Linked DNA regions of Homo sapiens. The protein of the gene in region 1 purifies or fractionates together with the protein of each later gene. This does not show direct contact. Each region holds a gene or a part of one and is shown in the gene's direction. Other genes may lie near its edges.

Evidence for each region.
Region 2: the proteins of ZNF668 (region 1) and ZBTB11 purify together in Homo sapiens (affinity purification with mass spectrometry; one large-scale study listed by BioGRID and IntAct). This does not show direct contact.
Region 3: the proteins of ZNF668 (region 1) and TENT4B purify together in Homo sapiens (affinity purification with mass spectrometry; one large-scale study listed by BioGRID and IntAct). This does not show direct contact.

What each region holds. Positions count from the first base shown.
Region 1 is NC_000016.10:31,064,202-31,067,860, reverse strand, and holds part of ZNF668 (zinc finger protein 668), read left to right. Parts: intron 1-2,831; exon of another isoform or gene 2,832-3,061; intron 3,062-3,175; exon of another isoform or gene 3,176-3,242; coding exon of another isoform or gene 3,243-3,289; intron 3,290-3,379; coding exon of another isoform or gene 3,380-3,401; coding exon 3,402-3,659. UniProt on the Homo sapiens protein: May be involved in transcriptional regulation. May play a role in DNA repair process.
Region 2 is NC_000003.12:101,648,305-101,650,835, reverse strand, and holds the end of ZBTB11 (zinc finger and BTB domain-containing protein 11), read left to right. Parts: 3' UTR 1-1,947; downstream 1,948-2,531. UniProt on the Homo sapiens protein: May be involved in transcriptional regulation.
Region 3 is NC_000016.10:50,159,800-50,163,458, forward strand, and holds part of TENT4B (terminal nucleotidyltransferase 4B), read left to right. Parts: intron 1-3,659. UniProt on the Homo sapiens protein: Terminal nucleotidyltransferase that catalyzes preferentially the transfer of ATP and GTP on RNA 3' poly(A) tail creating a heterogeneous 3' poly(A) tail leading to mRNAs stabilization by protecting mRNAs from active deadenylation.

The sequences.
Region 1 (3,659 bases):
GCGTAAGAGGCCCCAGACCACTGAGCAAGACCCCAGCAACTTAAGGCAAATTAAACACCTGGACTGAAGTCCCAGCTGCTTAGGTTACCCATTGTGGGACCATGGGCAAGTCACTTAACTCTTGGAACCTCGATTTATTCCTCTGTAAAGTAGGGACAAGAATCCCTATCTCAGAAAGGTATAAGACATTAAATTAAATAAACCAGCACACCCAGCAATGTGTCTGGCTCTAAGAAGACGCTTTGATAATTGAGGACAGTAATTATTTTTGACTCATTCATTCCTCACCCAACTCTGTCAGGTAAGTACTGTCATTATCTCCATTTTTCAGATTAGAAAACTGAGGTTCTAAGACATGCAGTACATTACACACGGTCACATCAGCTGGGAAGTGATGGAGGCAAAATCTGAAGCCAGACAGTTTGGCTTCAGGGACTGGGCACTTAACAAAATACTGAACCATTTCTCTGGACCTTGGTTCCCTTATCTGTGAAAATGGAATAATAGAACTTTCCTCATGGGGTTGCCATGAAGGGTAACTGAGCTAATACACATAAGGAGTTTAGGATACTGCCTGGTATTTGGCGAGTGCTCAGTAAATGTGAACTATCTTTTTTATCATTTATTTATTTATTTATTTTTGAGATGGGGTCTCACTCTGTTGCCAGGCTGGAGTGCAGTGGCACCATCTTGGCTTACTGCAACCTCAGTCTCCTTAGGCTCAAGCATTTCTCCTACCTCAGCCTTCTGGAGTAGCTGGGAGTACAGGCATGCTCCACCATGCCTGGCTAATTTTTGTATTTTTTGTAGAAATGGGATTTTGCTATATCGCCCAGGCTGGTCTTGAACTCCTGGGCTCAAGGGATCCACCCGCCTTGTCTTGAACTCCTGGGCTCAAGCGATCCACCCGCCTTGGTCTCCCAAAGTGCTAGTGTGAGCCACTGAACCTGGCCCAAGCTATCATTTTTATTAAGGAGGAACATTATCAGGCAGACTCTCCAGAAACCGTCTGGAAGAGGTAGTGAGTACCTCATCCAGAAATAGGGAGGGATCCCTTGGAAACTGTAGGAAGAATTCAAGTCATCAGAAAGGTTAGAATTCAGTCCCTTTAACTTATCTTCAAGCCCCAGGATTGATTATTGATTGATTGATTGATTGAGACAGTGTCTTGCCCTGTCTCCCAGGCTGGAGTGCAGTGGTACAGCCTTGAACTCCTGGGCTCAAGCAGTCCTCCCACCCCAGCCTCTCAAGTAGGCAGTACTACAGGCACATGCCACCACATCTGCTAATTTTTATTTTTAGTAGAGATGGGGTCTCACCAGGTTGCCCAGGCTGGAGCGCAGTGGTACGATCATAGTTCCCTGCAGCCTCGAACCCCTGGGTTCACAGGATCCTCCCGCCTCAGCCTCCCACGTAGCTGGGACTTAAGGCGCATGCCACCACACCTGGCTAAGCCCTAGGATTTAGTGGGAAAAGTGAAATAACCAAGTGAGAATAAGATGGAGTTTTGTGGGATTGGGGCCAAACCCAAAGGGGAGATGCTTGAGGATCCTCCTGGTGGAAGTGGGGCTCCAGTGAAGGACTTGTCAGATTTGGAACAAGCAGGAAGGACCTGGGGATTTGCATGGTGTGGTGGAAGCCATGGAAAGTTCTTGAGCAGGGAACAGGAAACATCATTCATTACTTTTGGGAGAAGACCGGCTGCATGGGGTTGGGGAGGGAGGGCAGCGTGCAGGCCTGAGGCCGGGATTTCAGGCAGAAGGGTGCTGACTTTAAGGATGTGGCCCTTGCCACGCGTCAGGGGCTCCTGTGTCCTCCCTGGGTCAACCAGGTAAGCTGCTTCTCCCGCCCTTTCCTGGCATAAGGGGCCCTGAGTCTCTGTATTTCCCCTAGCACCCTCGTGGCTCAGCTCAGTTTCCTCCTCCTGAACCCCAGTGTCATAACTTAGAAGCCACCAACCCCTAACGTGTCCAGATGAGGAAATAGTCTTTTTATTTTTTTTTTTTTGAGACGGAGTCTTGCTCTGTCGCCCAGGCTGGAGTGCGGTGGCACGATCTTGGCTCACTGCAAGCTCCGCCTCCCAGGTTCACACCATTCTCCTGCCTCAGCCTCCCGAGTAGCTGGGACTACAGGCGCCCGCCACCACGCCCGGCTAATTTTTTTGTATTTTCAGTAGAGACGGGGTTTCACTGTGTTAGCCAGGATGGTCTCGGTCTCCTGACCTCGTGATCCGCCCCCCTCGGCCTCCCAAAGTGCTGGGATTACAGGCGTGAGCCACCACGCCCAGCCGGGCGGAAATAGTCTTATAAACAACACTCATTTCACTGAGGTCTCATAGTAATCCACAGGGCTGCAAGTAGAACGTAGGCCCCCTAGCCTCTGGGCACACCTGGCTCCCTGCAGCCCCCACTCCTCAGACCCCTTCCCCCAGCAGCAGCTGCTGAGCACTCCTTAAGTGGATCTGCCATAATCCTCTTCCCTTCATCCCCCAGGGAGGATGAGCTGGTGTTAAGACTAATACAGCCATTAATCCTGTTTCCTCCCAACCATGATCCCCAGGAGCAGCTGGGTGGAGGGCGTCTGGGTTCTGGACCAGAAAGTAGGGATCTCAGCTAGAGCTGGTATCCCAGGAGGCCATGTTAGATCAGATACATCAGTTATGACTCAGAAAGAGGCTTCCAGCTGCTAGCAATGGCTCAGGCTGCCTTGAGTGATTCTCCATTACCAGAGTTGTGGGAACAGGCCAACAAGATTCCAGAGCAGAGAGTGGACAGATTCCAGTCTGGGGCGGAGGCCCGTACAGCTGTGCAAGGCCAGAATTCTGTGTGAACAGTTGCTGTCTCTGAGGACTAACCATCCAGAGGAGGAAAGAAAACACAAATGCTGGGGACCTGTCACTTCCAGACAGTGCCAGCTACCAGATTTAGCCCATTGGCTCAGCCCTTTTCTGGTCCCAGGTCTGTCTTTTCTGGGCGCTTGGAGACCTTCAGGCCAGGCCCACGTCTGGGTACACTCTTTATCCTGGCATAGTTCTTGGACACTGAGCTGAAGAAGGAAGATGGTGAGACAGATGGAACCTGGGCCTCTGGGAATGCCACAGTGTTTGGAAAAGCCCGTTGGGGGCGGGGGGGGACGTGTAGGTGAATCTTTTGTGACCCTCAGCCTCCTTTCTTAGTGGCTCTGCGGACACTTGGTCCAACTCCTTTCTTCAATGAGCAGATCAGGGAGGAAACGAACGCAGGATGTCAGAGCCAGGAATGCTGGGCAGGAAGGATGTGTGGGTTCCGAGGTGAGAAATGCAGATGAGATAGGGTTCTCTCTGAGGCTTTCAGGAGTGGCGAAGGTATGTGGCTTTGGTCTAACTTTGCTTCTCTTGCAGAGAAACCCCGTTCACCAAGGCCATGGAAGTGGAGGCTGCAGAGGCCCGGTCCCCAGCCCCCGGCTACAAGCGCTCGGGCCGCCGCTACAAGTGCCTGTCCTGTACCAAGACATTTCCAAACGCGCCCAGGGCAGCGCGCCACGCTGCCACACATGGGCCGGCAGACTGCTCTGAAGAGGTGGCCGAGGTGAAGCCAAAGCCAGAGACAGAAGCTAAGGCAGAGGAAGCCAGTGGGGAGAAGGTGTCAGGCTCCGCGGCCAAGCCTAGGCCCTATGCGTGT
Region 2 (2,531 bases), on another chromosome or scaffold:
TGCATTTTGACATTACTTTATTATACATTTTGCATTTAAAAGGCTGCACCAGTTGGCTTTTCTTCTGTTTTATTCTCAAAATATAGAGATTCTGTGATTTATTTGCCCTGTTTATGGATTAAAAAGAAAATTCTAATATAAAGCATTTCAATAGGATGCATAGGTATATTACGTTTTTTAAATGCTTTAGATCTGTGATTCTTGACTTACTATTTATTTTATCCCCTTTTAAGTCAGGGATGCTTTATTCTATTTTAAAGCACTTATGAGTTACATGTTGTAATCAAGTTTGCACAATATATTTATCTATATGAGGAACCCATAAATGAATAGCTAATTTTTAAAATGCCATTAAAATGCATGAAATGCTTATTAAAACCTTACTATACTATTTCTTCAAGGCAAGTAAATTGACCATGAGAAAAGAACACAGTTATTAAACACTGTTGACAGGAAAATTCTCCTTGATAACATAGGACAATTAATGGAAAAAAAAATTCTCATTATTTGCAAAGAATGAACAAGTTAATGAACAAACAAACTAGATTTGGTATGTTTTCAGCTTTTGTATCATGTTTAATTGTTTAATTTGGTTGAAAAACTGCAGTTGAGAAATCAGATAGCAATATAGACATTCACAGCAGCTCTGTGGATACCATGTAATTGTCAGGTAATTTCAGAATGTTGAAAATTATTCAGTGCAGCCCTCATAGTATCATACTTGAAGAAATTGATTACAGTTCCACTAAATTGTTGAAGATAAATTATTTTTAAAGGTTATGAAAACTAAGTTATATTAATTCATATGTTTGATTTTTAAATCCCACCTCCTCAAGCTATCCAATTTTCTGACTTTGAAAATAACCATGAGAGATGCCACATTTCTCTCTGGGAAACTACCACTCAAAGAATAATTGTTAAAAATTAAGCTTTTAGGTATTAGAAGCTGTTATAAAGTATAAAATTAAGATATAAGCAGATCACATGTAAATCATTCCTAAAGCACAAGAAAAGAATGTGCCTTGATGTACATATATTACTAAGTTGCCTCTCCCAGTTTACTTTAAAAATGGCTTTAAGGATAAAGAATAAATGTGATAGCTGTGCATGCATTATATATTTGCATTTGCAAATTTCCCATTGTTTTAACAGCTGTGTGGCTGACTTTCAATTTTAAGACGTGAATTGACATACAGCCCATAACTTTATAATGGCTGCTCATTTATCTTATCTTTCAGTTAGTGGAAAAACATTTCAACCTGACTAAAATTTGGAATTGTGTCTTTTATGTTCCATCCTCTGTTGTTACTAGATTTAGTTTAAAAATTGTGTATGACCATTAATGTATGTCATAAACATGTAAATAAAAGATGTTGAATCTTGTTGAAAAGCATGAACTTTGGAGTTGAGCTTGTTACTATTTTCAGTTCATAAATCAGTTGTTACTTGATGTGTTATTAAGTTAATTTATTTTTAAAGGGAAAGGAAATAAAACACTAAAAAATAACGATTGGAGGAACACAATATTAAAACTTCTTACTCTTACATATAATTGATATGGACAAGAGGCAAGGAAATAATGGGTAGAAGAGGGCAGTTCCCCAGCAAAAGCCTGGAAACCCATGGCCCTAAATGGGAACAGGCATTCCTGTTTTCATGCCCAAATGTTGCCTTTTGGCCCACCACGCCCTCCTATCCTGTATCCATATAAACCCTAAACCCCAGGCTCCATGAGCAGAAGAGTGTTGCGGCAGAGGAGAGAAGAGAGGAGCATCTAAACGTCCAGAGGAGTTCAGCTGGGGACGGTTGGAGAGGAGATCATCTTCCCACTCCATCCCCTTTCCAGCTCCCCATCCATCCTGCTGAGAGCCACCTTTATCCAGCAATAAAATCCCCTGCATTTACCATCCTTCAATTTGTCCATGTGACCTGATTCTTCCTGGACGCTGGACAAGAACGCAGGTACCAAGAGGGCACTGAGCTAGTTAACACTTAAGCTATCTGTAGACAGCAGAGCTAAAGGAGCCCTGTAACATTCCCACTGGGGCTTTGGGAGTTGCAGACACCCCCCACCAGATGCTACTGTGGGGCCAGAGCCCAAAAGCACTCAATCCAGCTCCTGCACTTGCCCATCTGCATGCTTCCCCTCCTGTAAGGGGTTTGGGTGAACAAATGAGCCACACCCCTGTCTCATGTCCTGTGAGGATATCTGGGAACTTCCTTTTCATAATCTTGTCACAGGATTATATATTGTGCCATCAACCATCAGCTTTGAATAATGTAAATTTGTAAATTATATAAATTCCATGTAGAAACAAATGTTAAGAAGGTTCCAAAAATTCAGTGCAGTTTTAATGTTACCAAGAGGGCATTGTTAATTTATAACAATTCCTTTTTAGAAACATAAAGCATATTGCTGTCATGAGATGACTTCCAAAAACTATGGGTGTCTCCTGATCAAATATGGACGCCTTAAGCACTTTTGGCTACTTGTTACTGCTACTGCTACTAAGCAATTTGAATCACTGTTG
Region 3 (3,659 bases), about 19 Mb from region 1:
TGTAGATTGTACACTAACAATATAATTCATATTTAAGAATGTCTCAAAATTTAGTATACTGTGTTCAACTAACTTAACTTTCTTTGTTTTTTTTGTTTTGTTTTGTTTTTGTTTTTTGAGACGGAGTCTTGCTATGCCACCCAGGCTGGAGTGCAGTGGCGTGATCTTGGCTTACTGCAACTTCAACACTCCTGGGTTCAAGTGATTTTCCTGCCTCAGCCTCCTGAGTAGCTGGGATTACAGGCACCCGCCACCACACCGGCTAATTTTTGTATTTTTAGTAGAGACGGGGTTTCGCCGTGTTGGCCAGGCTGGTCTTGGACTCCTGACTCAAATGATCTGCCTGCCTTGGCCTCCCACAGTGCTAGGATTACAGACATGAGCCACTGCGCCCGGCCGCTAACTTAACTTTCATTCCACAACTTCCATCTTTTATCCAAAATCTGTGATCATTGAATACTGTCACCATTAATCATTGGCATTTCAGTGTTTGGACTTTTTTTTTCCCCCTTCGTCTTTGTGGACTCTTTTTTAACACTCATAAAGTTTTAACTATTGAAAAGCAAAGGAAACGGTGAGTGACTTTTTGGAGTCTGTCTACCCAGTGGTCACACAAAAGGCTTACTACATTACAGGAAAGATAGGATGGGAAAGGGATACTAGAAAATTCTAAGTCAGGAACGGGGGTGTGTATTAGAAAAATTCTGATCCTGGCATGCCAGATGGCCTTACATCTCAATTTCTTCCGTGAAATTCCTGCCAACAAATCATAGTGTTAGAAGTACAGAAGGGTCCATGGGAACAGAATTTAAGGGCTCCGTTGGTGATACGGAACTGATCAGATGGTTCTCACTTGTTCTCAGATAACCTGTATACTGAATATCACAGGAAGGGTATAGACGTCATGGCAGTGGTTAGATATTCTTGCACCTGCTGAAGCTGAGAAAATTAAAGTAATTTTTTTTCCTGTGGAAAGTAGAAAATCAAGCTTTTGTATGATTTCACACAGCTTTCTATTCTCTCTTTTGTTGACTCTGTTAAGAGTAACATTTAGTGGTGGAAACTATTTCAGGATCACACCCACAACACTAGAGACTGTATTAATCACTTACACACACATAGGTATAGAGTAATCTTGAAGGGGCTGTAGGCCAAAGATAATGCTTTTTTGAAGAATTAGAGACTAGTTACCAGCACCTGGTATTTGCTGTTTCCTACAGAGCTGACTGGACAGCCTAGAGTCTGCTGAGGAATTCAGAGGATGGCCAGTAGAATGTTCTTTCCACCCCAGAATATTTGGTAGGGACTCAGCTGCTGTGGAATGCCAAAAAGGCTTTGAGTTTGTTTCACTATTCTTAAGATTACACGTAATTGTTTTTTTGTAAGAGATTATATATATTCAAGTTGAGGATGGCTTTGAGTTAGACTTTCCTTAATTTGGAATCACACAGCAGATGATACATTTATTTCCATCTGATAAGTTACTTGATGATGTAAAAAGACATTTGAGTTAAAGATTTTTGGGAAAAAAGCTGAATGTTGAGCCATTTATGTTGTGTACTGGTTCCCTATTCACTTGGACAATTTTAAGTCTTAAAACAATCTTAACCATGTGCACAAGAGATTTCACATAGTATTTGGTAATTAAATTAAGGAATTCTAGCTCAAGTCATGCTTTTTGCTGAAATAGTTGTATATATTTAGTGCGGAAACCTGTGTTTTCAAATTAATGTAATAAAAGTTTCAATAAAATGGAAGCCTTTATTACCGTGTTTCAAATGCTATGCTAAACCTTTTCCATTTGTTATTATATTAACCTCCTCATACATAGCCCTACTAATTTTTTTACTTTCTATTTTGAAATAATTACAGATTTATAGGAAGTTGTGAAAAATAGTACAGAGCCCATGTTCCCTTCACCAAGTTTCACCTAATGGTAGTAGCTCACATAACGATAATTTAATGTCAAGAACCAGGAAATTGTCATCGTTGCAATCCATAAGCCTTTTTTAGATTTCACCAGTTTCACATGTATTTGTGTGTGTGTGTATATATATAATTGTATGCAATTTTATCATGTGTAGATCTGGATAGCCACTGTAACAGTCTATAGTTCTATATACAGAGCTACTCCATCACCTCAGGGCTCCCTATGCTACCACTTTATAGCCGCACGCACCCTTCCAGCAACCACTAATCTGTTTGCATCTCTGTAATTTTGCCATTTTGAGAATGTTATATAAATGGAATCATACAGAATGTAACTTTGGCTTTTTTTCTTTTACCATACTTCCTTTGAGAGCCATCCAAATTGCTGCATGTATCAGTAGTTCATTTCTTTTTACTATTGAGTAGTAGTCCATAGTATGGCTGAACCACACAATTTGTTTAACCATTTACTTATTGAAGGACATACCAGAAGGGTGGTTTCCAGTTTTTTGGCTATTGCAAATAAAGCTGCTATAAACATTCATGTATATAAATATTTTTATGTGAATATAAAGTTTTCATTTTGGGGGAATAAATGCCCAAATGTTTGGATTGTATGGTAAGTGCATGTTTGGTTTTTAGAGAAACTGCTGAACTATTTATTTTCTAGAATGACTATATCCTCTTATATTCCTATCAACAATATATGAGATATCCAGTTTCTCTGCATCCTTGCTAGCATTTAGTGTTACCACTTTTTTATTTGAGCGGTTCTAATATGTGTAGTGATAGCCTGTTTTGCCTTATATTAATCAATAAAAATAGCCTCATCTAATCTTAACTTTTTTTATTTTAAAACATCTTGGCAGTATTGAACTTTCTCAATGAAAAATCTCTAAAATTGTGACTTGAAAGGCTTTAATTTTCCAGTTTTTCTTTGGTTTTACTCTTAGCAGTAACATTTTAACTTTTTTTTGTCTTTGAAGTAATTTTCAGTGTTTCCTTTACATGTTGCTTTTTCTTAGAAACTAGTTACTAGCATGAAGTAGATCTTTAGCCTCGTTTTCTAAAAACATAAAAAAGTAAAACTGTGGGGTTTATTTCAAAATTGAGAGTCCTGTCTTTTCATATGAGGATATTTTATAGTCTGTTGGCTTGGCTATATTTTAGGGAGTAAACCTGTGGTTAGTGGTTTGTTGTTGGTGGTGGTAAAGTTTTCTTACAGTATTTTTATACCTGAATAATACCTTTAGACTCTATAGAATAGATACTTGATCTTCAAATCTATCCTAGAATAAATTGTTTTATCTAAACAGCTTTGTGACCTGAGAATTGGGACTTAGTCCCTTAGTTTTCCCTTACTGGCCCTTTGTAGTCACTGTTTTGATTTTGTGAAAGTAACTTAACTCTTAGCACTGTCAGGTATTGTACATTCCTGCCAAAGCAAGAATAAGAATACATAGGATTGTGTTTTAATTCTATAATTAGGTGACTTTTGGCTAATTTCCAGGAACTTGGACTTAATAAAGTACTAGTGATAAGTTTGGAAATTTTAGTGTCCTTGTTCTTTGAAGTTATTCACCCTTTACTTTCTTGTTTGTTTGGGGTGTTTATACTACTGTCCCTAAATATAGCTGAAATAAAGGAAGAAAAATAACCCCTGTAATATCACTACCAGGATATAATTTCTTTTTTTTTTTTTTTTTTGAGATGGAGTCTCGCTCTGTCGC